6 separate regions of the Homo sapiens genome follow, and all the other regions are reported to be linked to region 6. The links are microRNA targets in miRTarBase. Many come from high-throughput screens and were not tested one by one. Region 6 holds a microRNA gene; each other region holds the end of a gene's coding sequence.

The links. Region 6 holds the annotated microRNA hsa-miR-1277-5p (AAAUAUAUAUAUAUAUGUACGUAU, at 1,676-1,699, opposite strand). A microRNA usually pairs through its seed, bases 2 to 8, with sites in the 3' UTR of a target mRNA and lowers its output. Matches are read on the target gene's strand: a 7mer-m8 pairs with bases 2 to 8, a 7mer-A1 pairs with bases 2 to 7 and ends in A, and an 8mer does both.
Region 1: miRTarBase lists AKAP8 as a target of hsa-miR-1277-5p. The part of its 3' UTR that is shown has no 7-base or 8-base seed match.
Region 2: miRTarBase lists PUM1 as a target of hsa-miR-1277-5p. Seed matches in the 3' UTR shown: 7mer-A1 at 3,125-3,131.
Region 3: miRTarBase lists YAF2 as a target of hsa-miR-1277-5p. The part of its 3' UTR that is shown has no 7-base or 8-base seed match.
Region 4: miRTarBase lists ZNF512B as a target of hsa-miR-1277-5p. Seed matches in the 3' UTR shown: 7mer-m8 at 739-745.
Region 5: miRTarBase lists PRRC2C as a target of hsa-miR-1277-5p. The part of its 3' UTR that is shown has no 7-base or 8-base seed match.

Annotation. Positions count from the first base shown.
Region 1 is chr19:15,351,467-15,355,555 of GRCh38, forward strand. It overlaps AKAP8 (A-kinase anchoring protein 8), which reads right to left. Exons shown (of 14, transcript NM_005858.4): 14 at 1,919-3,904. The coding sequence ends at 3,449. All of the region lies in intron 3 of LOC124904643 (a long non-coding RNA gene), which reads left to right. Among named protein-coding and RNA genes, the nearest start is that of BRD4, 21 kb to the left of the region's middle.
Region 2 is chr1:30,929,427-30,933,515 of GRCh38, forward strand. It overlaps PUM1 (pumilio RNA binding family member 1), which reads right to left. Exons shown (of 22, transcript NM_001020658.2): 22 at 2,080-3,916. The coding sequence ends at 3,785. Among named protein-coding and RNA genes, the nearest start is that of SNORD103A, 4.3 kb to the right of the region's middle.
Region 3 is chr12:42,156,937-42,161,025 of GRCh38, reverse strand. It overlaps YAF2 (YY1 associated factor 2), which reads left to right. Exons shown (of 4, transcript NM_005748.6): 4 at 200-3,922. The coding sequence ends at 437. Among named protein-coding and RNA genes, the nearest start is that of GXYLT1, 14 kb to the right of the region's middle.
Region 4 is chr20:63,956,150-63,960,226 of GRCh38, forward strand. ZNF512B (zinc finger protein 512B) reads right to left here. Exons shown (of 17, transcript NM_020713.3): 17 at 555-3,990. The coding sequence ends at 3,739. It overlaps UCKL1 (uridine-cytidine kinase 1 like 1), which reads right to left and starts at 267. Exons shown (of 15, transcript NM_017859.4): 1 at 111-267. The coding sequence starts at 223. It overlaps UCKL1-AS1 (UCKL1 antisense RNA 1), which reads left to right. Exons shown (of 1, transcript NR_027287.2): 1 at 1-836. RefSeq lists silencers at 1-233, 824-1,033 and enhancers at 364-423, 453-1,340, 1,341-2,226.
Region 5 is chr1:171,591,208-171,595,296 of GRCh38, forward strand. PRRC2C (proline rich coiled-coil 2C) reads left to right here. Exons shown (of 35, transcript NM_001387844.1): 35 at 380-2,304. The coding sequence ends at 640. Among named protein-coding and RNA genes, the nearest start is that of MYOCOS, 29 kb to the right of the region's middle.
Region 6 is chrX:118,384,011-118,388,099 of GRCh38, reverse strand. MIR1277 (microRNA 1277) reads right to left here and starts at 1,706; the gene lies at 1,629-1,706. It overlaps WDR44 (WD repeat domain 44), which reads right to left. Exons shown (of 20, transcript NM_019045.5): 3 at 686-760.

The DNA.
Region 1 (4,089 bases), not on the chromosome of region 6:
TAGCTGGGCGTGGTGGCGGGCGCCAGTAGTCCCAGCTACTCGGGAGGCTGAGGCAGGAGAATGGTGTGAACCCGGGAGGCTGAGCTTGCAGTGAGCTGAGATCGCGCCACTGCACTCCAGCCTGGGCGACAGAGCCAGACTCCGTCTCAAAACAAAACAAAACAAAACAAACAAAAATTAAAATGAACTACAGACCTAAATATGAGCTAACATTATTAAATTATTGGAATAAAACATAGAAGTAATTTTTTTTTTTTGAGATGGAGTCTCACTCTTGTTGCCCAGGATGGAGTGCAATGGCATGACCTCGGCTCACTGCAACCTCCGCCTCCTGGGTTCAAGAAATTCTCCTGCCTCAGCCTTCTGAGTAGCTGGGATTACAGGCACCTGCCACCACACCTGGCTAATTTTTTGTATTTTTAGTAGAGACGGGGTTTCACCATGTTGGCTAGGCTGGTCTCTAACTCCTGACATCAGGTGATCCACCCGCCTCAGCCTCCCAAAGTGCTGGGATTACAGGCATGAGCCACAACGCCCGGCTTACAAGACTTTTTTTTCCAGATGGAATCTCGCTCTGTTGGCTCAGGCTGGAGTGCAGTGGCGTGATCTCAGCTCACTTCAACCTCCACCTCCCAGGTTCAAGCGATTCTCCTGCCTCAGCTTCCCGAGTAGCTGGGATTACAGGCATCTGCCACCATGCCTAGCTAATTTTTATATTTTTAGTAGAGACGGGGTTTCACCATGCTGGCCAGGCTGGTCTTGAACTCCTGACCTCAGACCATCCACCTGCCTTGGCCTCCCAAAGTGCTGGGACTACAGGCATGAGCCACCATGCCTGGCTACAAGGCTTTTAAAAATTAGCTGGGCATAGTGGTGCACTCCTGTAGTCCCAGCTAATCAAGAGGCTGAAGTGGGAGGATCACTTGAAACCAGGATTTGGAGGCCGCAGTGAGCTGCTGTGGTGCCACCGCACTCCAGCCTGGGCAACAGTGAGATCCTGCCTGTAAAACCAACAACAACAACAACAGAATTATGTAGTTTCACCAAGAGGTGGAAGGTGGAAGAGCCTCACTGACATTCAGACCAATTTAATGACAGGTCTTGGATTGACATATACATATTTTGAAACGAAATTTTGCTCGTCGCTCAGGCTGGAGTGCAGTGATGCAGTATCAGCTCACTGCAACCTCTGCCTCCAGAGTTCAAGTGATTTTCCTGCCTCAGCCTCCAGAGTAGCTGGGACTACAGGCACCTGCCACCACGCCTGGCTAATTGTGTATTTTTAGTAGAGATGGGGTTTCACCACGTTGGCCAAGATGCTCTCGATCTCCTGACCTTGTGATCTGCCCGCCTTGGCCTCCCAAAGTCCTGGGATTACAGGCATGAGCCACCACACCTGGCCTGATATTTTATTTTTTTGAGACAAATTCTTGCTCTGTTGCCCAGGCTGGAGTGCAGTAGCGCAACCTCGACTCACTGCAGCCTCTGCCTCCCTGGTTCAAGCGATTCTTCTGCCTCAGCTTCCCCAGCAGCTGGGATTACAGGTGTGTGCCACCACACCCAGCTAATTTTTGTATTTTTGGTATAGACAGGGTTTTGCCATGTTGGCCAGGCTGGTCTTGAACTCCCGACCTCTACTGATCCACCTGCGTTGGTCTCCTAAAGTGCCAGGAATACAGGTGTGAGCCACCATGCCTGGCCGGGTCTTGGATTTTTATAAGAAGAAAAAAAAGGTGTGGGGTAGGGGAGAGCCAGGTGCAGTAGCTCATGCCTGTAATCCTGGGAGGCAGAGGTTGCAGTAAGCCAAGATCACGCCACTGCACTCCAGCCTGGGCAACAGAGTAAGACTGTCTCAAAAAAAAAAAAAAAAAGAAAAAAAAAAGAAAATTAAGGAAATAAAGCAGTTCCACTAGTGATGTTTTTCTGCACTACTGTTTAATGCTACCGACATTTTTGCCTTAAGAGAACAAGCTTAAAAGGCATGCTCACCCTGCGATTAAGACGCATCTACACAACACAAACGGATGCTGAGCAGAAATGACCCAGAGGCACCATCGTCTTTTCAAGCAGTTTATTTCCATTTTCAGTTCTAATGTTGACTTTTTCATAAATATTCACCTGGAATCTCCACTAAGGCTCCTCATGAGCAGGGCCCAATTCCTAGAATGTGCTTGGTGAGTTAGCCCCTGGTATACAGTAGAGGCTCGGCAAATATTCTACAGCCTCCTTTCTAATGATTTCCCAGTGGCCAGCGTTTCCCAACATGTGAGATGTACAGTTCAAAAGGCCACAGGGAAACTGACACAGCAGGGCCATTTCAAAAGGGGAGGATCTTCCAATTCTTCTGATTTTAGGAAATTCTGTTGCGTGCTAACCTTGAACACATGCTAGCCTCCCTTTCTCAGATTTGGAAAGATCTAAAGTAATAGTTATTTCTCTAAAATGAAACATATATTTCATTTTATATATATATATATATATTACAGATACCTTCTATCTATGGCAATTTATGTTGGATTATTCCACCTATGGCAATCACATCAAGTTTTCTTTCCTTTTTTTTTAAGAGATGGGGTCTTGCTATGTTGTCCAGGTTGGTCTTGAACTCCTGGGCTTAAGCTATCCTCTCACCACGGCCTCCCGAAGTGCTGGGATTATAGGTATGCATCACCGTGCCTGGCCAAATTCTCTTTGTAAATACATTTGAGTGGTAGTAACTAATTTTAAAGGAAAAAAACCTGAAGTAATCTAGAGGTGGAACACAAATGAGGTAAAATATTAGAGAACTGATTCAGCAAGGACTAAAGATTGGGACGCAATGCCCTCTGCACAGTCTGGTTCTTGAGGTTGCGGTGGGTGTGTTTCCAGTGGCGTAGGTCGGTCAGATACTTCTGGCCTTTGGGAGTGCGTGGATGTGACGCGGTCAGTGCCACATGTGAACCAGGTGCTGCGAAGTCCTGTGAAAGTCACACACCATATGGTGCACTACAAAGGTATAGGTTAAAGGCTGAAGCTTGAAACATACAAAAAAAAATCCTCTATAGAGCAAGATATATTCCTAGTATTCAGCTGTTCCCAACCAAATAAAAAAAAAAATTAAGGAAAAAAATAAAAAAGGAAGCATTCCATCAGTGGCTGTATTGAACAAGTAATGTATCATCAAGATATAATCACCCAACCTTTATTATTCCAAGTGCACTACTGTCAAGAGACATGTTACAGCCGCTAAGGACAATGTACTTCAGCTTTGAAACCTGGGCAAGAAGCCACACGACTGCATGAGACAAGCCGTGAGAGGCACTGCTCAGGAGGAAACGCTGGGTCTCTTCACCAAAATTAGATTACAGCATATTCTGGGAGCACACGCCCTTGTACTGCTTACAAACCAAGGGAGAAAGACCAACGCATCCATCATCCCAACGCCTTCCCTGGAACAGGGAAATGAGCATCATTCTGTGGGAACAGCGTCTTTAGACTCTGCATCAGTTTGTTCCACTTCAGCATCCGCGGCAGCTGGGGCAGGAGCAACTCTGGTTTGGGCACTTTCTGCCTCTGCTGCCATTGTCTCGGCGCCATTTCCAGCCTCTGCAGCCTCACTTCTGGCCTTGGGGACGCCCTTCTCATGTGCCGTTCCACAGGGCACCTGCTCTTCCAGCAGCTGTTCGGCTTGAGGATCACTACCGGCCTCCGCTGTGTCCGTGGGGCCTTCGTCCTCAGCCGGCTCCCCGCTGCTCTCTGGAGCGGGCGCTCCTTCCCCATCTACGGCCCTCACTGCTGCTGTAATCACCTCTGCTAAGACGTCCGCGGCCACCTCCTCAGGTGTCTCTTTCTTATCCTCACCTCCTAAATTGTCATCTCCTTCCATTTCTGGATCAACAGTTTCACTGGTGAAAGGGTCCTCACCCTGGCCAAAGAGGAAACACCGGTCAGCGTGGTGTAAGCAGAGCTCAGGAGGCCCATGATTGCGGGGATGTCAGCTTTTCAGAACCAGCAGTCCACAAGGGAAACACTTCTGTAAATTATGCCACAGGAGTGAATCCTACATGTTCTCAGAGCCTACAGATTCAGAAAACACCTCGGGGAGATATT
Region 2 (4,089 bases), not on the chromosome of region 6:
AAGGGAGAAAGCTTAGTTTCAGGGCAGATGCCAGACCTCTGGTCTCTGGGTGGGATTCCTGACTACACTCCTGAGCCCTTCAATCCAGGGGAAAGCCATCCCAACCCTGACCTTGAACCCTTAGGCCTCCATAATACTCGCTTTAGGTGGCAGCACCCTCGTGTGGCTACAGATGGTAACTACATAAAGTTACAGGTTTCCTCCCTCAAAAGGATGCCTCACTCCCCAGGGCCTCACCCTTCTGCAATCCCTCTGAGCCTCAAAAAGAGAAGATGGCCATTCATGGGGCTAATGGCGGGTGGCAAGGGCAGGATGACATGGACAGGGCACTGGGCTGGGAGTCAGGAACCCTCAGATAAAATCCTCACTTGGTTACTGACTGCGGGGCTTAAGTCTCAAACTCCTCATCTGTATAAAGGGCTGAAACATCTCTCCCTGACTCCCTAAAGCTTTCTACAAGGACCAATGGTATCTCAAATACAAAGTACTCTGTAAACTGTAAAGCACTGTGAGAGGGTAAGGGTTATTACATAAACTGAGGAATGCACATTGGAGGGACTCTGGAAGAGAGACCAAGAATGCCGGTACCCAGTGTGTGACGACAGCCCGGGCCATAGAATCCTTGGGACGGACTTGGTAGCAGAGTAATGGTGGTCAGAAGAGGGGGTGGCCCAGAGCCCAGGCCACTCCATGAAACCCAATCCTGCAGATGGAGGGGTCTGCCCCCATGCCCACCCCCTCGCATGATGAACTAAGGGGAAAGCTTTATTGATCAGAGTTGGTCTATCAAAAGACTTGCATCAGATCCTAGGACCTATTTCCACATCTATGAGATAGGGACAGCCGCATTCTTCACAGGGCTGTTGGTTCCCAGAACAGTTGTTGAGAACATGTGAAAACCATCTCATGTGTGACTTGACGCAGAGTCGGTTCACAACAAATGACATTATTATGTAAACTAATGAACAAAGATAGTTTTGTTCATCAAAAACTGTGCAGGGAAACTGGTATCATTTATTACACCAGTGTGCTGGACACAATTTAATTGCCATAATTTCCCATGACATGACAAGAGAGCCACTTTACATAGATCTGTTACCTTTGGTCCACTTCCAGCAAGGAATTTGGTGAAAGATGAGGTGAACTAACTTGCCCAAGTGCACACAGAGTGGCGAGACCCACATGTGACCCCAGGTCAATCTGACTGGAATCATGCTATCAGAGCAGCATGGACTGCAGTTCCCAATGCCCGCAGCATGCCACCTCTGCAAGCGCCATGATGGCTACTGCAGTGGGGAATGCTGGGAAAGGGCCCCAACGACAGCTGCTGAGGCAAAATCACATGCTGGACTGGAAACCTGCATCCCCTCAGCTTCCTTTTCTTCTCCCCCTATTCCCAGGGCCTGTTAGTGATTAGCCCTTCCCCTTGAGGGGCCCATGTGAAGTTCCTTCAACCATCCTGACGCTCCACTTCCAGACACCAGCTGGTGTGGGCTTCCACCTGGCCTCTCTGGCTGGACCCAGCCTGTAACTGCCAACACTTACCAAATCTGCCCCTGGAGCAAAGTCGGTGAAGAAGGGCAGATGGCATCCTCAGGCTAGGGCCACGGGCACAATTGTGAGCTCCAGCCTCCTGTGTTACAAGCTAAAAGAGGCTCCCCAGTCTGAAGAGATGAGCATGCTCAGACATTGGACTGCTTGGCAGGCCTCAGTAGTGGGCACAGGTTGGCAGGGAGCAAATGGAGCAGCCCAAACAGAGGAAACGCGGAGGAGGAGAGGCCCAGACAGACGGTGCTGTAACCCAGACAGCTCATCTCAGGGGCCCAAGGAGAATATTCTGATGTGCAGAGTTGGAAATCTGGATTTGTATGTGCAGTATCTTGATTCTGAATGCACTGGGCAGGCTGAACCAAACATCTTTGGTTTAAATTGGGCTCAAAGAGCCATTAGTTTGGCACCTCTCCTCCCACCCTCACAAAACAACAAAACAAGCAGAAAGAAGCATGAGCAGGAAAGGGCTGTCCTGGGGAACTACACTGGGGGTGGGGTGGGGGGAGAGGTTAAAATAAAGCACAAACCCAGATTCCAAAGTTCTGTATTTTTCAAAATAAAGATCACACATTGTTTAGAGACAATCTACACAAGAGTTACAAAAAATAGTTGCCCAGGCATAAGCATACACAGGTTTGTTAATTATACACATATGGTTACAAGTGTGCTTGCAAAAAAGTTCATTGGAAATATACACAAGGCTCTGGAAATGTACACCGTGTAGTGTTACAATTCTATATTCAAACAAGGAAAATTGACAGTATGTTACATTCACTTACAAGTAGACAAAATGCAAAATACAGTTCATCTTCTGTACAAAAGGGAAGGGCGATTCACACTTTACAAGGTGAGAGGGGCTCTGATTGTAAGGAAAGCTCGGGCAAGGCTAGACTTTTGCACGTCCTTTTGACTGTCACAAAATCAAAACATTACTTTTTTAGGATTAAAAAAACACTAGTGAGAACTCAATCTTGAATAACATTTAGAAAGAATCTCGCTATACTTGAGACTAGATGACAAATAAAACCAAGCTATTTTTTTCTTTTTAAACATTAACTAGGCTGTATAAAGAACATTTATTCCTTCAAAAGAAAAAAATTTACTTCTGGTTGAAATTACAATTTACAATATACAACACTATATGCTACGACCATAAAAGGTGAGAATATACACTGAATGCACAGGGCTGGCTAATTCTCTTTTCTTACCAAAAAACGTGTTTATGTTGATTCAAACTTCTCCACATTTACATTACAGGTATACAAATGTACAATTGTACAATCAAAAGTATGTTCGACTACTAGGGTACATTATAGATACAGATTAGACATCAAAACAAGAAAATACTACAAATTTGTATATATGCAAAGTCTACACCAAGTATACACTATATATTTATAGAAGCAAGACCAAAAGCAGAGTTGGATTTTTTTTTCTCATGCTAAATAATCAGATTTTACCTTTCAATGTTAATAGAAAAAAATCCAGTAGGCAGTAAACAATCACACCCGCCCAGCCTCAAAAGACGTTCTGGGTGCTCGCATCTCCTCCTCACGAACAGCCTTCTTCAGCATAATATAGTCTCCAAAAAAGGCATTTTTTAGAATTTCATAAACTTAATGTCACAAACTGAAGCTTTAGCAACTCTGAAACCTTTTTCATTATATATATATATATATATATATATATTTTTTATAAACAGTGTTAAATGCCAGTTTGGGGTCATTTAACTACAATTCAAACTTCTCAGGTTTTTTTGTTTTTGTTTGTTTTTTACTAAAATGAGGAGGTGGGGAAGAGCTATTTGCAAAACTTGCCGGCCAGGCAAATGAGCTAAAAACCTTTTCCTTTTTTTCTTTTTTTTTTAAAGCTTTTTTTTTTTGTTAAACCAACCACCCTGAAAGTTTCCACATGTGAAATATAGATACAACAGTGAACAAAATATGTGGCCTCCCATGTACATTGGTTACCTATGTACAAGTATCCTATACACCAGTAAAACAGCAGGGCAATTAGTCAATTAAAAAAAATAGTACATGTTATGTGTAATAAAATTAAATTTACAAAGGCTTTTCCACTCGTGGATTTGATTCCTTTTTTGGAGGAGGGAGTAATCCTGGAGCAACCACTTGCCCGTCTCAGACTCTACACTAGAACATTTCTGGTTGCTGGTTGGATTTGCCAGTGGGCCAGTGAGGTCAGCGGGAATGAGGGAACAGCGGGTGACACTGCCTCAGATGATACCATTAGGGGGGCCACAGATGGGCCCTAAGTCAACACCGTTCTTCATGTAGTACTTCTCCAGCTTGGCCAGAATGTGCTTGCCATAGGTGTACTTACGAAGAGTTGCGATGTGGGGCCGGATCTGGGGAGGAAAGACAGTCTGTGTTACATGGCCTGAGATGAGACTTGGGGGCAGGCTTCCCGGACATGCATTTGCATGTCATGCATCACACACACATACACACACACACACACACACACACACACACACACACACACACACACCCCTACAGCAATACCTTTCACTGGCTCAGC
Region 3 (4,089 bases), not on the chromosome of region 6:
GAAGAATGTTCATGAATGATTGGTTTGATTAATGTTAATGAGTTGAAACATTTTATGATGTTTTTGTGGCTAGTTACACATAAATTGCCTTAAATACATGTATTCATTTTGTTACTTTTACCACTTTTATTATTTATTATATGCTCAGAAATTTGGTAGAGGGAAAAGCTAGTTTAAAATTTCATTTTTTTATGTTTAGGCCAAGATTGAAAAATGTGGATCGGAGTAGTGCTCAGCATTTGGAAGTTACTGTTGGAGATCTGACAGTCATTATTACAGACTTTAAGGAGAAAACAAAGTCACCGCCTGCATCTAGTGCTGCTTCTGCAGATCAACACAGTCAAAGCGGCTCTAGCTCTGATAACACAGAGAGAGGAATGTCCAGGTCATCTTCACCCAGAGGAGAAGCCTCATCATTGAATGGAGAATCTCATTAAAGTTTATTTTCTCCAATTTCTTAGTCACTTCTGTCCTACCATGCAAATACACAGATTATGCCAAGAGGTACCACATTTTCATGACAGATACATTCATGCACAATCCATAATTTGAGTTTTACATAAAATAGAAATTTGTTAGAATTTGTTAGATTTTATTGCAATGATGCCTACCAAACATTTCCAGACTTAACATTTTGGTCTCTGCAGTTAAGTGCCATGAAAATGTGGTTGAATTATTCATTATGCAGTGTTATTGGTAAGTGTATTTTCACTTTTAGTTTAGTGAATTCTAACACATAATTCTTGAATTCTCTACTATTGGCATGTAACGAATTTAAATTTTTTATAACATAGTGCAAGCTGCCTAAATATGTATTATTTGAGAATTGTGAAACAGATAGTTATATGTATACAAGTCAAAGAACAACTTAACTATTGCTGCAACAGGTTTTTCTTAATGGTTATCCTCTTAAATACACCTGCTGGTACTTGGTGTGGTTAAATAGGAAAATTGTTATTAAATAAAGAATTTGTATGAACCTTTGCCAATGTTTTTGACACGTTTTACTAATTATTGTTCCTGAATTATGTTTCTGGTTTTATCTATTTTTTGAGGTTTTTTTGTTTGCTTATTTTTCAAAACATTCATTTATTGTAATGTTTACTAGCGGACTAGTAAACAATAAAACATTGATTATTTAGCTTTATAATTCAGGTTTAGTGCTATTGTCATTGAACACTGGTATTTTCTGTATCATATAAAACATTAAAATTCAAATAATTATAAGCATTTGGCAAAAACAAGAGAAAAGAAACTTGCCATATTTTACAAGCTGCAATTTTAGAAAAGCTTTAACTTAATGATAGTTTTATCATTGTTTTCTTGTCCCAAACTTATCCAGGGCCATAGAAGTATGAATCTAATTAAAACAGAAATGGGAATTATTGCACAGAAATGGGAAATAACTAATTTTAAATCAGTCAAATTGGCTTCTTATTAAATACAATAATTCTTATGAAAATCATAGTACCCTATTTTCAGACACAGCTGCCAGTTTACACATTTCTCAGTATCCTGAAAGGAAAAAAGTATAGCCCCACTTATACTATGTAAAATTACCAATAAAATATTTTTATGACTACAGATTTTGCATTTTTGTTTACAACTATTTAAAGAGTTTTATGTTGTATTTAGAATTTCAACCTAGAAACCACACAGTACTTAAATTCTCCTGGGGTCTCCTGCTTTCTCTTAACCATTTGCTTAATATATATCTACCTAAAGGAGACTTCTGAATTGTAAATGAACTTAAAAATAGAATGTGGATGCAAAATATCACATAAGACATCATGATAACATTTGAAGAAAAAATAAAACTGTAGACCCTAACAGTTGTGATATTTGGTGGTTTCATGTGGTAATGTAATTTTCTGTTTAATTACAGTACTTTTTACAGGCACAGTGGTACTGTCTTTTTTGTAAGATGCTAGTTGTGAAATACAATTAATTGCATACAGTAAAAGTCTGTGATTAAAACATTTATATACCTCATTCTTTAGTGTTGTTAAATGAAAAATTAAAATTTGTGTTTATTATAAGATACTTTCAATGGAATACCAGCTAACCAGATATGTTCCTTTAAAACATGAATTTTTTTGTCTTATTCTGTTTTTAACATGTTTCAAATGTTTTATACATTTTTGGAGATAGTAAAAATTTAAAAATGTAATAGGGAAAATATTTAATTTTTAAGTCAAAAACTATGCTTTAAAGGAATTACATCTTATGATCAAATAACTTTCAGGATGTATTTTAAATGAGCTGCAAGAGAGAAAAATCTGACAGGAGATGGGATTTTACCTGAATGGAGCATACTCATATTTCTACATAGGTGGGAAGATACTCATCTTTCTACATAGACGGGAACACGGTGTAGCATGGAGATTAAGCGTGCTAACTGACACCTCATGTTTGAATCCTGTTGTAGAATGGAAATGAGCTTAAATTACCCAAGCTTACTTTCCATCTATAAAACAGGGCTAATAATGGTAATCACATCTAATTTATAGGGTTTTTGGGAGGATTAAGTCAATCCGTGTAAAATTCTTAATTATCTGACACATACTGGTCACTCAGTAAATGTGAGCTTTTACCATTGTTATAGGTAAAATCCCATTACAAAAATACAAAAATATTTTTTGTAACAGTTATTTTCCTGCCCTCTTGGATGACCTAAAGTAATAGTGTTTTATAGATTTCACTAAATTTTCAGTGTAATATCAGATGTTTTCTCTGGATGCAGAAAGACCATCTTTCCATAATTAAAGAACCTGGTGGGTGTGCACTATGAGATTGGAGAAATGAATTAAGTTGACTTGAAATTATTTTACTTTTATTAATCACAGGTATCTCAACCTGCCTTTGTTTCACCCTACTTCAAGTACACTTCCACACCAGGAAAACAGACCCAAATTCCATAAACAGAACTGACGTTAAAATATGCGAAAGATTCAGAACCTAGGTTTAGGGTACATGTTTTTCTCTGTTTCATGAACTTACAGTGTGGTTTGAGCACTGGGTTCTTTTAGCCAAATTCCATACAAAAAGAATTTGGATGTTTTCCAGCATTTATTACCTTACTTTGCTATAAGTAAGAGTGAAGATAGGCCGGGTGTGATGGCTCATGCCAGTAATCCCAGCACTTTGGGCTGAAGCAGGCAGATATTTTGAGCCCAGGACCAGCCTGGGCAACATGGTGAAAGCTCATCTCTATGAAAAAATTTGAATATACATATATATATATATGTATATTTAAAAAGTGAATATAATTTGAGGCACAGAAGAATATTCTTAAAACCTTTTGTATTATACAATAGAAATAAAGGTTTTATTTTTATTAAATGCTTTCCTAAAATGATAGTGGATAATAGACAAAGTGAAAACATTTAAAAAGGAAGAGAAACTTCAGCCTTTCTAAGTTGATAGCATGTTTATTAACTTTTAGATAAAGATCCTTATAGACTGAAAGAATGTAGCCTCTGCATTAATGGTAAATGGTCTAGAAGTTTTCGTTTCCACTGAGGCTTCCGCCACTCGCTTTTTTAAACTTCCTGCTATGGTTTGGATATGGTTTGTCCTCACCAAAACTCATGCTGAGGCCTGAGTCCCCAGTTTGATTGTGTTGGTAGGTGGTGCCTTTAAGAGGTGATTAGGTCATTGAGATGGATTAAAGGCTTTCTCATGAGGCTCAGTTAGTTCTGGAATGGATTCGCTCTTGCAGGAATGGATGAATTCTCACAAGAGTGGGTTGTTATGAAGTGAGGATGCTTCTTGTGTTCTGTTCTCTTTGCCCTCCTCAGTTCACCATCTGCTTTCCACCATGAGTTGAAGCAGCATGAGGCCCTCATCAGATGGGCTCCCTGATCTTGGACTCCTCAGCCTTTGGACTCATAAGCCAAAATAAATCTGTTTTCTTTATAAATTGCCCAGTCTCAGGTATTCTGTTATAGCAAAAAAAAAAAAGTGGATTGAGATACTTTTTTGCTCTGCTACTTACCTCTTTTCCAGAATCTTTTAAGGACTTGATGTAGGAACTGAGCTATTTAGTAAGTCATTGGTAGAAGTTTCCGCACTGTACTTTGAAAATTA
Region 4 (4,077 bases), not on the chromosome of region 6:
CGGGAGTGGGGGACTTGGGCTCGCGGCGGGGACGGACCACCCGCCCAGCTCGGCCGGATCTGCAGCCCCTTCCCGCTCGCCAGTGGAGTGGAGGCGAGGCCCACGCCTACCGGTCCTCGCACGCGGTCTCGCTTTTCTCAGCCTGCCGGCCTGGTGTGTCTCGGGCCGTAGGTGGCGACGTGGGCGAAGGATCAGCGTCCGCGCGGGCCGGGGGCGCAGCCATGGCGCTCGGAGGCCTCTTTGCGGGCCTGGCCGGGCGGCGCGCATGGGCCGCCGGGAGCTGGCGGGTCCCTCTCTTGCCCACCGCGGACTACAAGCCCCACAAGGCCGCGCGTCGCGGACTACAAGCCCCACAAGGCCGCGCGTCGCGGACTACAAGCCCCACAAGGCCGCGCGTCGCGGACTACAAGCCCCACAAGGCCGCGCGTCGCGGACTACAAGCCCCACAAGGCCGCGCGGCGGGCATGGGGGACCCGTAGTTCGGCAGCCTCCGCCACGTGCCTGGAGGGCCCCGCCCCCTGTTTTTCACCACAAACTGAGCCGCACAAAAACCCTGGAAAAAAATCAATAAACATTTATTTGATACAGTCATTTTAATACATACAGTGATGGCCCGTCCCCACGCCACTCGGGACCAGGGCGCGGGGCGGGGACGAGGACCGGGGACAGATGGTCACAAGGCGGGCGGGGCCCGAACTCACCGTTGAAACATCTCGCAAATAAACACTTTGTAGATAGAATATATATGTATATATATATGGTTACAAGTGATAGCTGGAACCTCTTTCAAAATGCACTTATGTACTGAGAACTGGCATTAAAAAACCCAAACCAAGAAACCCAAAGCACGGGACGCCCGGCCGCGAGGCAGGGGAAAGCCTGGGGCCCCAGACCCGGGCCTGGGGGAGCCGCCTGGGGCCCCGCCAAACGCGGCACACGGGGACGGCCCCTCCCGGGGTCAGGCTCACTGGCTCCTTCCCTTCAGCGCCACCAGGCAGGAGGGCCAACGGTCACACAGGAGGCACCCTCACCTGCCTTTGCACCAGCAAATAAAGTGCATCCCATTTTCGTGTGAGCGTCGGCCCGGTGAGTCAGCCCTTCCGGGCCCTTTCCTGTTCTCAGGGCAGGGGGCGTGCGCTGAGCCAGAGGTAGATCTGCAGAAAGGGCCCCGACTGGGCCTCGGGCAGGGCCGGCGCCCACCACACTCTGGGGGTCAGCTATGCTGGTCCCTCTCACTGAGGGCTCCTGGAGGCCTATGTGGGCCAGCGTAGGGAGTGGGCAGACCCTGCTGAGCTCCACCCAGGGCCCCACCCCTTGGGAGGAGGGCTCTGCGGACCAGCATGTGGCAGAGGGAGGGCAGAAAGGAGGGGGTCAGACCCAACAGCCACTTCTGGCAGTAGCCCCCACGCCTACCTTAAAGACAAAGGGGGTTAAAGTGCTAAACATCAAGGTATCCAGGACTCCTCTTCCCACACCAGGGATTATCTGTGGGCTTTGGGAGTGTCCCGGAAACTCACCCCCAGCAAAAACCAGACCCTCTTCTCTTCTCCCCAAGGGCCAAGTACCTGAGAGGCTGGGGCAGGCACCACACCCTGCAGGTGTTCAGGTCCACCCTCCTCCCGCCATTGGTGGCAAGGACAAAGTGCACCTAGGCCCCCGCCCAGTGCCTGCTCCCCTCCCCTCCCCTCCCCTCCCCTCATGAGGCTGCCCCAGCAGCAGCTGCCAGACCCCACCCTCCACCTCCGGCTCCTCCAGCTCCACCAGTGAAGCTCTGGGACACAGGAAGGAATGCCTCCCCCGACCCTCTGACGCTGGGTCACGCCCATCTCTGCCCCAGCCTCCATCCTCTCATCAGGCCGAGGTGTGCGTGGGTGGGGGGAGTCCGGGTCTCCACACCCACTCCCTGGCACATCTGGCAAGGGCTGCTGAGGGTTGGAGCCTTCTGGCCCAAGGATGAAGCCAGAGACAGGAAGTGTTCTGCAACCCCAGTCCCCAAAGTGCTCCTGGAACTTGTCTCCCTACTACTGCAGGCCAAGCCCAGTGGGGCCCCTTCTCCCTGGGGAATGGGGGAGGGTGGGTGCTGGGGGCAGAGGCAGTGCCCAGTCAGTACTGCCTCCCTGAGCAGCAAGGGACCCCAACCCCAGAGACCCACGCCCTGGTCCAGCCCAGCCCCCAGGCCCACCGTCTGCACCAGGAAACCCTTAGCACCAAATGTCGGATTGCGAGTGTTTGTATAAAAAACAATTTAAAAAAAAGGTTGTTACTTGTCACAGCAACAAGACTGGCATCCACTACACCCAGGAGACACACGCACACGGGCAAACATCAAAATTCTCATCGTCCAGGGTCAGTGGGGCCGAGCCCTCAGCCCACTCCCACCCACCCTGGAAAATGGCCTCCCTCCAAACCTACCCCCTCTGAGCCTCATCCTCCCTGCAATGCCGTGGTTGGAAGGCAGGACCCCAGGGAGGGAGCCACAGGCTGTGGCCACCTCTTCCAGGCACCCTGGACTCCCTGCCTGACCCCTGCCCTACCTATAGACCCAGCCGTCCTCAGGGCCACAAAGGGGCAAAGACAGCTCTGGAGCTGCCATCAACCTGCTGTGACTTTGGCCAAGCCCCTCCCCTGGCTGGCCTTCAGTTCCCATATCAAATGACCACACAACCAGAAACAATGGGGGCAGGTTAAAAAAAAAAGTGGGGAGGGGGCTCCCATGAGAGCTTGGCCACTGGGCCTACCCAGATTGGCAGACAGAAGGCTGCCTTTCCCCCAGTGGCCACTCAGAGCCAGGCCAGCTCTGCCCAGCTTCCTGCCCCACATGCCTATGGGCCCCAGCAAGACCCCAGGGCCCGAACTAGTCCGTCCCTACTCCACGAGGCTGCTCCAACCTAGGCCTGCAGTGCCAGAAGGCTGAACACTGGAGGAGAGCACACTCCAGGGGCCCCACACCCCCAGGGCTGGCAGCTGTGTTGAAGGGCATCAAGCTTCTGCTGCCCTGTAGGTACAAGAAGCAAAACCCCTCCCTTGCCCCAAGCTGGGAGAATTACAGACAGGCCTGGGGGGCAGGGCCTGAGCACAGCAGGGATCGCACTGACAAAGGAGGAGCAGGGGTGGGGGTAGTGGGCAGGCCTGGAGAGGTAGAAAACAGAAGCAAGGGGACCAAGTGGGTGGCCAAGGGCAGGCCGGAGCCTGTCAGGTCAGCATGGCAGTGGTCAGACAGGGGTCTGTCCTGGGAGGTAGCTGGGGGTGCTGGAGTTCCAGTGTTGGGTGGAGGTGAGGCCAGGATGGTGGCTGCCCGTGCCAGGTTGCTCAGGTGCCCTCACCAGCCCAGAACCACAGGTCACCAGGGATGCCTGAGCCTTGGGGTAGCCAGGGAAGGGACCCGGCAGGGCCTGAGGAAGCGGAGCCGGGGGGCCAAAGGCCATCTGCCTACTCTGCGCTGCAGCCCCTGTGGCACCAAGACCCCAGACACATTCCCATGAGGAGGGGCAACCCTCCTGGCTATTGCACTTCTGCTGGGCACACCTTGGGGAGCCCCAACCCAGGTGTGCCCTGTGGCAGCCTTAACAGGGGAAGGGCCACCTTCAGGGAAGGGAGAGTGGCTGGCTGCCCCACTGGACGGATGAAGAGGCGGGGGTGGGGGATGGAGAACTGGAGGACAGAGGTCCCGGAGCTGGCCCTGCCTTGAACAGAGGGCGGTGTGGCGGCTGCATGGGGGCCAGGCCCCACGCACCATGCTCACTTTTCAGGCGCCTTGCTGACTCCCACCTTCCGGCCGGTGGAGCCCCGGGCCCCCTTGTCTCTGCATCCTGGAGGCCAGTCGTCCCGGCGCGGGGGCAGCTTGGCCACAGGCTCCTCTGGGGTCCGCTCCTTGGGCTTTCGGCCCCGCTTCTTTCCACCTGCCAGATTTTTCTTCTTTTCCTTCTTGGGCACCAATGAGTCCTGGCTCCTGTGTTTGGGAGGTGGGTCTGCTGATGTTCGGAACCAGTTCTGGGGAGAGAAAAGCGCTGATGAAGACCTGGGACTGGATGCTGAGCACCTGAGCCAGGCATAGCCTGAGAGCTGAAGACCTGTCAG
Region 5 (4,089 bases), not on the chromosome of region 6:
ATGCCACAATATAAGTGCTTCCTTTTCATTTTATTGTAGACCACATATTGATAACTAGAAGTTTTAAGTGTTACATGTATGTTTTTAGATTTGCAAGCAGGTTCCCTAAATAAAATTTAATATGAGAGGGCAGACCTTGAAAAGGTGGTGGGAGGTGGTCCTGTGGTTTTTTTTTTTTTTTTAAATCACATGAAATATTTCAAAAATAGGAAGAAATCTATTCATTAAAAGCTCAAAGATCAATGAGGTACTTTTGGCTTTGGCCAAACCAGTGTGGGGAAAACTGATTTGTGATTGGTAAAAGAATTTGAACCAAGATTGATTTGACAGGCTTTGGTAATGCTGCAGTATTTTCAGTTGTTCTTTCTCATTTTTTAAGGCAAAGCAGAGAGCAGAGGTTCTTCAGTCCACGCAACGGTTCTTCTCTGAACAGCAACAGAGCAAACAGATAGGAGGAGGCAAAGCCCAGAAAGTGGACAGTGATTCAAGTAAACCTCCTGAAACACTGACCGACCCTCCTGGGGTCTGTCAGGAAAAAGTAGAAGAAAAGCCACCCCCTGCACCCTCCATAGCCACCAAACCTGTTAGAACTGGACCAATCAAACCTCAGGCGATCAAAACCGAAGAAACAAAATCTTAAAGGCTATGGTTTATTGCAGGGGATTGGGAGGGGGGCGGGAAAACATGGAGAATTAAGTCAGATAATGCTGGCAGCCAAAGGGGCAAAATGGCCTGTGACATTATCCTGTTCAGAGCTTGGAGATGTACAAGGGACATAGGAGCAATTTACACTGACACACAGCTGCTGTACCAGTGAAAACGAGGCTTTGCAAGCTTGTACCTACTATATAACATGTGCTTGGTTGATGGCCATGCATCTTCAGTCAGAATTTATATATAAATGTATGCACCCATTTTTTTGAGTGCATATAATTTAGACCTAAAAATCCTTATGATTAGATGAAACACCAAAAATATAAGGAAAATAACACAGCAGAGGAATAGCTCAGCCTGAACAGTGTGATGGTCCCAGCTACTACATCAGATGCGGTTTTTTTGCTCCCTTATGTTCTTCGGATATGGTTATGGCATTTGTAGGCTTGGAGGTAAAGAACTGAAGATAACTGGTGCTGGATAGAGGAGCCTTATTTTTTATTATGGCAGCTTGCTATTTTTATAACATGGTGATTGAGTTGAACACAATCAAAGTACAGTAGTAACTGATGTCCCCTTCTTCCTGGATGAATGAGCAGATAAATATTGATGTCAGCATCCTTGAACCATATCAAAGTGAGCAGTGTTTGGCTACTGCTTCTATTTGAAATGGTGCTGTGTTTTGGTTGTGGTCTGAAGCTTTGAAGCGCTACTTAGCATCTCCTTTCTTCCATGGAGCTCTCACGATTCAAACATGACAGATTTGGTAAAATGCTGGTTAGGTTGAGTCTTCCTTGCCCCCACTCAGTCATCTTTGTATGAATCCCATGATTTGGGGGTTTTTTTCTTTTTTTTTTTATACCAGTTTTTAGCTGGTGTTTATGAAGAACAGTGAGTACCTAGAACTGTGCCACTAATTAAAGGAAATCCTAAGAAGGTGCATTTCTTTACAGAGCTGTGTCATGCCATCCTTTGGGCCCTCTGCTGGAAAAGTAGAATCAAGTCTCAAATAATGCCTTTTTAATTGTATCCTCTAGTATTATAGATATAGGACAGTACTGTATCATACCTCTGTGAATGTAAAATATCTTGTACCTGCTTTATGATACGTAGTAGTGACCGTGCTTTATCAGAGCTGTTTTTAATGATGTTATTCTAGAATGTTTTCTTTCCAGATGATGATTCAGAAGCTAATTTTAAAAAACGGTGCCAGGTACCACAACAGTAACAGAACTTTGCAATTTTCTGGGGTTTTGTTTTTTACCTTTTTCCCCCCTTTTTTTTAAATGGAGTGTGCTGGATGTCTCTATAATTTTATTCAGATGACTGCAGAACCTGGAAAAGCTGTTGCTGCTATTGATGCATAACATACTGCTATTGGTCTTTTTATATAAATATATATATATATATACATATATATATATAATTTGAATTTTTGGAAACTTTAGCTGTGCTGTCAACTTTGGAAAAAGTATCCCGGTTTACTGTGTTGAGTTGGCATTGTACAGAAATTAACAGCCATATTGGTCTAGAAACGTTAAACTTAATTTTTTTCCATTTGTACAGGGGTAACGCACTGTATTAAATATGTAAGGTCTTATCTACATGGGTTTGATTACAGAAACTAATAAAGTATTCTCTAAATAATGATTCTTGGAGCTTATAATCATTTCCTAAAATCTGAAGCAAGAGGGTTTGTCATGTATTAAAAATAGTGGTCAAGAGTACTGGCCAGTCGCAGTGGCTCATGCCTGTAATCCTAGCACTTTGGGAGGCCGAGGCGGGTGAATTGCCTGAGCTCAGGAGTACGAGACCAGCCTGGGCAACATGGTGAAACCCCATCTCTACTAAAAATACAAAAAAAAAGTACATTATACAGCCGGGAGCAATGGCTCATGCCTGTAATCCTAACACTTTGGGAGGCCAAGGGAGGTGGATCACCTGAGGTCAGGAGTTTGAGACCAGCCTGGCCAGCATGGCAAAACCCTGTCTCTACTAAAAATACAAAAATTAGCTGGCCTGGTGGCAGGTGCCTATAATCCCAGCTACTTGGGAAGCTGAGGCAGGAGAATTGCTTGAACCTGGGGCGGGAGTCAGAGGTTGCAATGAGCCAACATCAAGCCACTTCACTCCAGCCTGGGCAAAAGAGTGAAACTCCGTCTTAAAAAAAAAAAAAAAAAATTACATTATACTCTAGAAAAGGATTATCATCCAAAGCCTTGACTTCTCACTTTGAAGAACTCTGGAGATCATTCAACTAAAGTAACTATTGTCATGGCAGATAGTCATGGCCCCTGTTCTGAAGTAGCCAAACTCATATTGAAAACAAATCTGTCAGCCGGGCGTGGTGGCTCATGCCTATAATCCCAGCACTTTGGGAGGCTGAGGTGGGCGGATCACCTGAGGTCAGGAGTTCGAGACCAGCCTGGCCAACATGGTGAAGCCCTGTCTCTACTAAAAATACGAAAATAAGCTGTGCGTGGTGGTGCATGCCTGTAGTCCCAGCTACTTGTGAGGCCGAAGCAGGAGATGTCAAGGAGTAAAATTCTCTTGATGCACAGTGCCAGATGTAGAAGAGTTTCACCATCTTTTGGTCAGAAGCTGAAGGACCAAAAATAGATCTCAGTATTATTTATGTTTGTATTTTTCATAGCTTTGTTAGCATGTTCATGAACATCACCTGCCCTAAAAGGCTATAGGGCATTTATTCTATCATTTACTCAATTTATGAAATGAAATACTGAGGGATTGTAATTACTTAATCCCATGTTCAGAACATACGGCTTCCAGACCCAGCTTTGAGAAAACTAGTCATTTAGTCACTAATGACGCATGTGCCTTCTTAACTCATGGATACTGCGATTGTTAAACACAAGATACTCAAGTTTTGATGGTTTTGTGTTGGGTAGAGACAGGGTTTCTCCATGTTGCCCAGGCTGGTCTTGAACTCCTGAGCTCAAGCAATCCACCTGCCTCAGCCTCCCAAAGTTCTGGGATTACAGGCGTGAGCCACCGCACCAGGTCTGATACGTATTAATAGGCCCTGCCTTGATCCAAGTTTTCAGTCTAGGGTTTTTCTCAAAATATGCTCTAAATTAAAAGCTGTGGTTTATTGCAGGGGATTGGGGGAAGAGGTATGATGGATAAGAATGGGAATCAAGTACTTGCCTTACTAAGTCACTGCCATTGTCAGTATTTTTCATATTCTAGTTTTTAAGTTTAATCCTCCTAAATTTTAAGACCTAATGGGTGACCAGCTATACAGCTTGCATTACCCCCACTTGCAAACCAGCAGGCATGTGCTATTTGGTTGTATTAACTGTTAAAATACCACTAATACTTTGGGTCCTTCGCTAGAACCTACAATGGAAAAATGGCACCAAAAGCATATCGAATGAAAGTAAGATAATGTATATAAGTGTCTCTGCAGTTGGC
Region 6 (4,089 bases):
CACAACAGGCCTTCCCCTACCCTCTATTAGCCCAAAATGTCGAGTGCCAGTACTGGAGAAACTCTGGGGTGGAGAATGTGTCATTTTGTTAGCCTCTGGAAACCCACTGGCTAGAACATTGCCTAGGGCACAGAAAACACTTAAAACTTGTATAAATGAATAAAAACACACCATCCTGTCTTTCTCCTTGAGTTTTATCCTGATACTGTAAACTGCCCATTTTCAAAATACTGATCTTGTGCTCAGTCTCTTCTAGTAAACCAACCTTTGAAGCTTCATAGCATCAATTTTTTAAAAGGTATCAGGTACTATCAGAGTAAGGACTTCTTATAACTTCTGATTCCTAAAGACATCAGAATGTTGCTGCACTGAGCTTTTCAATACCCATAACTCCTGGTAGTAACCTCAAGAAGAGTTAGGGCTTATTCTGATAAAAATACAAGAACAAAAAATAAAAGCATTTTACAAAATATTGTCTCAAGGATAAATTACCAATTAGAATATGAAAAGGACTTCTAAAAAGACTGAAATGTCTTCAACCACAAATGTGACAGATTCATGAAACATTTGCTGAACATCAGCCATGTACAGAGCGCTATACTAAAAGAATATAAAAGCTGTTTGAAATATACCATATAAATATGATGTCTGCTATAAACTAATATTGACATTGTATCTTTCCAACCTTTTTAGACACATCTTGTTTCAATTCTTGTACAGGGGACTCATTTCCAACTTTGTATGCAGTGTTCTCTGTTTCCTGTTTGAAAAAGAAAAGAAATAGAGACCAAATGATGACATCTTTTCTTTAAAAATATGCTTTAAAGGGGTACAAATGAGAAAATGTAGCATTAATAAATCAAAGGCCCTTAAAGGGCTTTGATTTCTTCTTCTTCTTTTTTTTTTTTTTTTTTTTTTGAGACAGAGTTTTACTCTGTCACCCAGGCTGGAGTGCAGTGGCACAATCCTGGCTCACTGCAACCTCTGCTTCCCGGGTTCAAGTGATTCTCCTGCCTCAGCCTCCCGAGTAGCTGGGATTATAGGCGCGTGCCACCACACCTGGCTAATTTTTGTAATTTTAGTACAGACAGAGTTTCACCTTGTTGGCCAGGCTGGTCTTGAACTCCTGACCTCAAGTGATCTACCCACCTCAGCCTCCCAAAGTGCTGGGATTATAGGTGTGAGCCACTGTGCCCAGCCTAAAGGGCTTAGATTTCTGAATACTGATAGATGCTCAGAAATTTTATGCCAAATGGGACAATGTAATTTGCATAAGAAAGTTACCCATCAGCAATATTCTATTATTCTGCAATAGGATATTTACCTTTAAATGTGAAAACTTGCTCAACTTTTTAACATTAAAAAACTGTAATGGACGATAAGAACTTCTACGTACTTTTATAGCTAAAAAGGATTAAGGATTTAAGCAAGGGGCTGAATAAAAATTGTTATTTTCCCCAAAGCATTGCTCCATAAATATGCACAAATACAAAAGTTTATAACACAGAAAACCACATTCAGGGAATAGTTTTCTTAAAATTCTACATGCTTTAGATAAAAGAAATCAAGACTTAACCAGAAGTTAAATGAAGCCCCTAAAAAAACTATGAAAAAAGATGAAAAAAATTAAACCCACCAAAAATACATATATATCTACGTATACATTTATATACACATACGTACATATATATATATATTTGGGAGGTTAGAAATGGATACTGCATTTCTGCTGGAAAAAATTAGGGTAAAATAAGACAATCATATATTTGCAAATCTCAATACAATACTCTTCTCAATCTTAAGTTGTCTATTTATAGAAGCACAGCAATTTGAATGCTACTCTTGATACTGAGGAAAAAAAACCATAATTCTTTGTGCACATCACAGAGTTTGTTAGAGGAAGGTCATTATAACCATTTTAGACAGATAAAGGACTCAAGGCACATTAATTATTTAGGTGGCACTTATACAAGTATCAGGATATGATCACAATAGGCTCAATAATGAAATTACTCCAGAGATTATTAAAATGTTAAAGATTTAACGTGCCAGTGAAATTTCTGTAGGACTTGCAATATCTTCGAGCACTGAATTCCTCCCCCAGAATTTGGAGAATACTACCAATCTTACACAGATTCTTCTAGAAAAAAAAAAATGTTTCATGGACTCTTAAGTATTAGATAAAATCCAAACAGTACCAAGGCCCATGAAGGCCTAAACATGACATAGCCTCTGCCTACATTTTTGATATCTTCTACACTCCTCATCTCCCTCTCATATCACTCCCCCACAATTACATTCTGGCCAATAGGATGATTCCTTGCCATTAGGGTCATAGCTCAAGTGCTATTTTATCAGAAAATACTTCCCTGACCATCTCAAAATAGCCTTAGCTGACTCCTTAACTTTCTATCACATTATCCTATTTTTCTTTTTTTTTTTAACTTTAAGTTCAGGGGTACATGTGCAGATTTGTTACACAGGTAAACTTGTGTCATGGGGTTTTGTTGCACAGATTATTTCATCACCCAGGTATTAAGCCTAGTACACATTAGTCATTTTTCCTGATCCTCTCCCTCCTCCCACCCTTCACCCTCTGATAGGCCTCAACATGTGTTGTTCCCCTCTATGGGTTCATGTGTCCACATCATTTAGCTCCCACCTATAAGTGAGAACATGCAGTATTTGGTTTTCTGTTCCTGCATTGATTTGCTAAGGATAATGGCCTCCAGCTCCATCCATGGCCCTGCAAAGGACATGATCTCGTTCTTTTTTATGGCTGCATAGTATTCCATGGTGTATATGTACTACATTTTCTTTATCCAGTCTATCATTGATGGGCATTTAGGTTGATTTCATGTCTTTGCTATTGTGAATAGTGCTGCAATGAACATGTGTGTGCATGTGTCTTTATAATAGAATGATTTATATTCCTTTGGGTATATACCCAGTAATGGGATTGAGGAGAGGATGTCAAACTATCCCTGTTTGCAGACAACATGATCTTATATCTAGATAACCCATAGTCTCAGCCCAAAAGATTCTTAAGCTGATAAACAACTTCAACAAAGTCTCAGGATACAAAATAAATGTGCAAAAATCACTAGCATTATTATACACTAATAACAGCCAAGCAGAGAGCCAAATCAGGAATAAACTCCCATCATTTGCAATTGCCACGAAAAGAAAATACCTATGAATACAGCTAACTAGGGAGGTGAAAGGAGAACTACAAACCACTGCTCAAAGAAACCAGAGATGACACAAACAAATGGAAAAACATTCCAAGCTCATGGATAGGAAGAATCAATATCGTTAAAATGGCCACACTGCCCAAGGCAATGTATAGACTTAATGCCATTACTATTAAACTACCACTGAGATTCTTCACAGAACTAGGAAATTTTATTTTAAAATTCATAGGGAACCAAAAAAGAGCCTGAATAGCCAAGGCAAATCCTAAGCAAAAAGAACAAAGCTGGAGGCATCATGCTACCCGACTTCAAACTATGCTACAGTGCTACAGTTACCAAACAGCATGGTACTGGTACAAAAAGAGACACACAGACCAATAGAACAGAATAGAGAATACAGAAATAAGACCGCACACCTACAACTATCTGATCTTCGACAAACCTGATGAAAACAAAGAATGGGGAAAGGCTTCCCTACTCAATAAATGGTGCTGGGAAAACATTATCCTATTTTCCTTCATTGCACTTATCGTTCGAAATGACCTTATTTACTTGCTTATTTTTTGTCTCTTCCCTGTCCCACTAGAATGTAAGCTCCATGAGAGATGGACCTTGTTTGTTCTATCTACAGTTTGTTCAGTACCTAAAACAGTGTCCAGCACTAAATAATCATTTGCTGAATGAATGTTGAATGATGCATGCTCTGTTTTTTCTTCAGTTAATACATACATCTTAAGTTTACATAGGCTTTAATTGGATCCTGGTTTTATATGAAAGAAGGCCGGGCACAGGCTGAAACCCGGAGTTTGAGACCAGCCTGGGCAACACAGTGAGACCTCGCCTCTAAAAAAAATAATAATTAGCCAAGCATGGTGGTATGTGCCTGCAGTCCCAG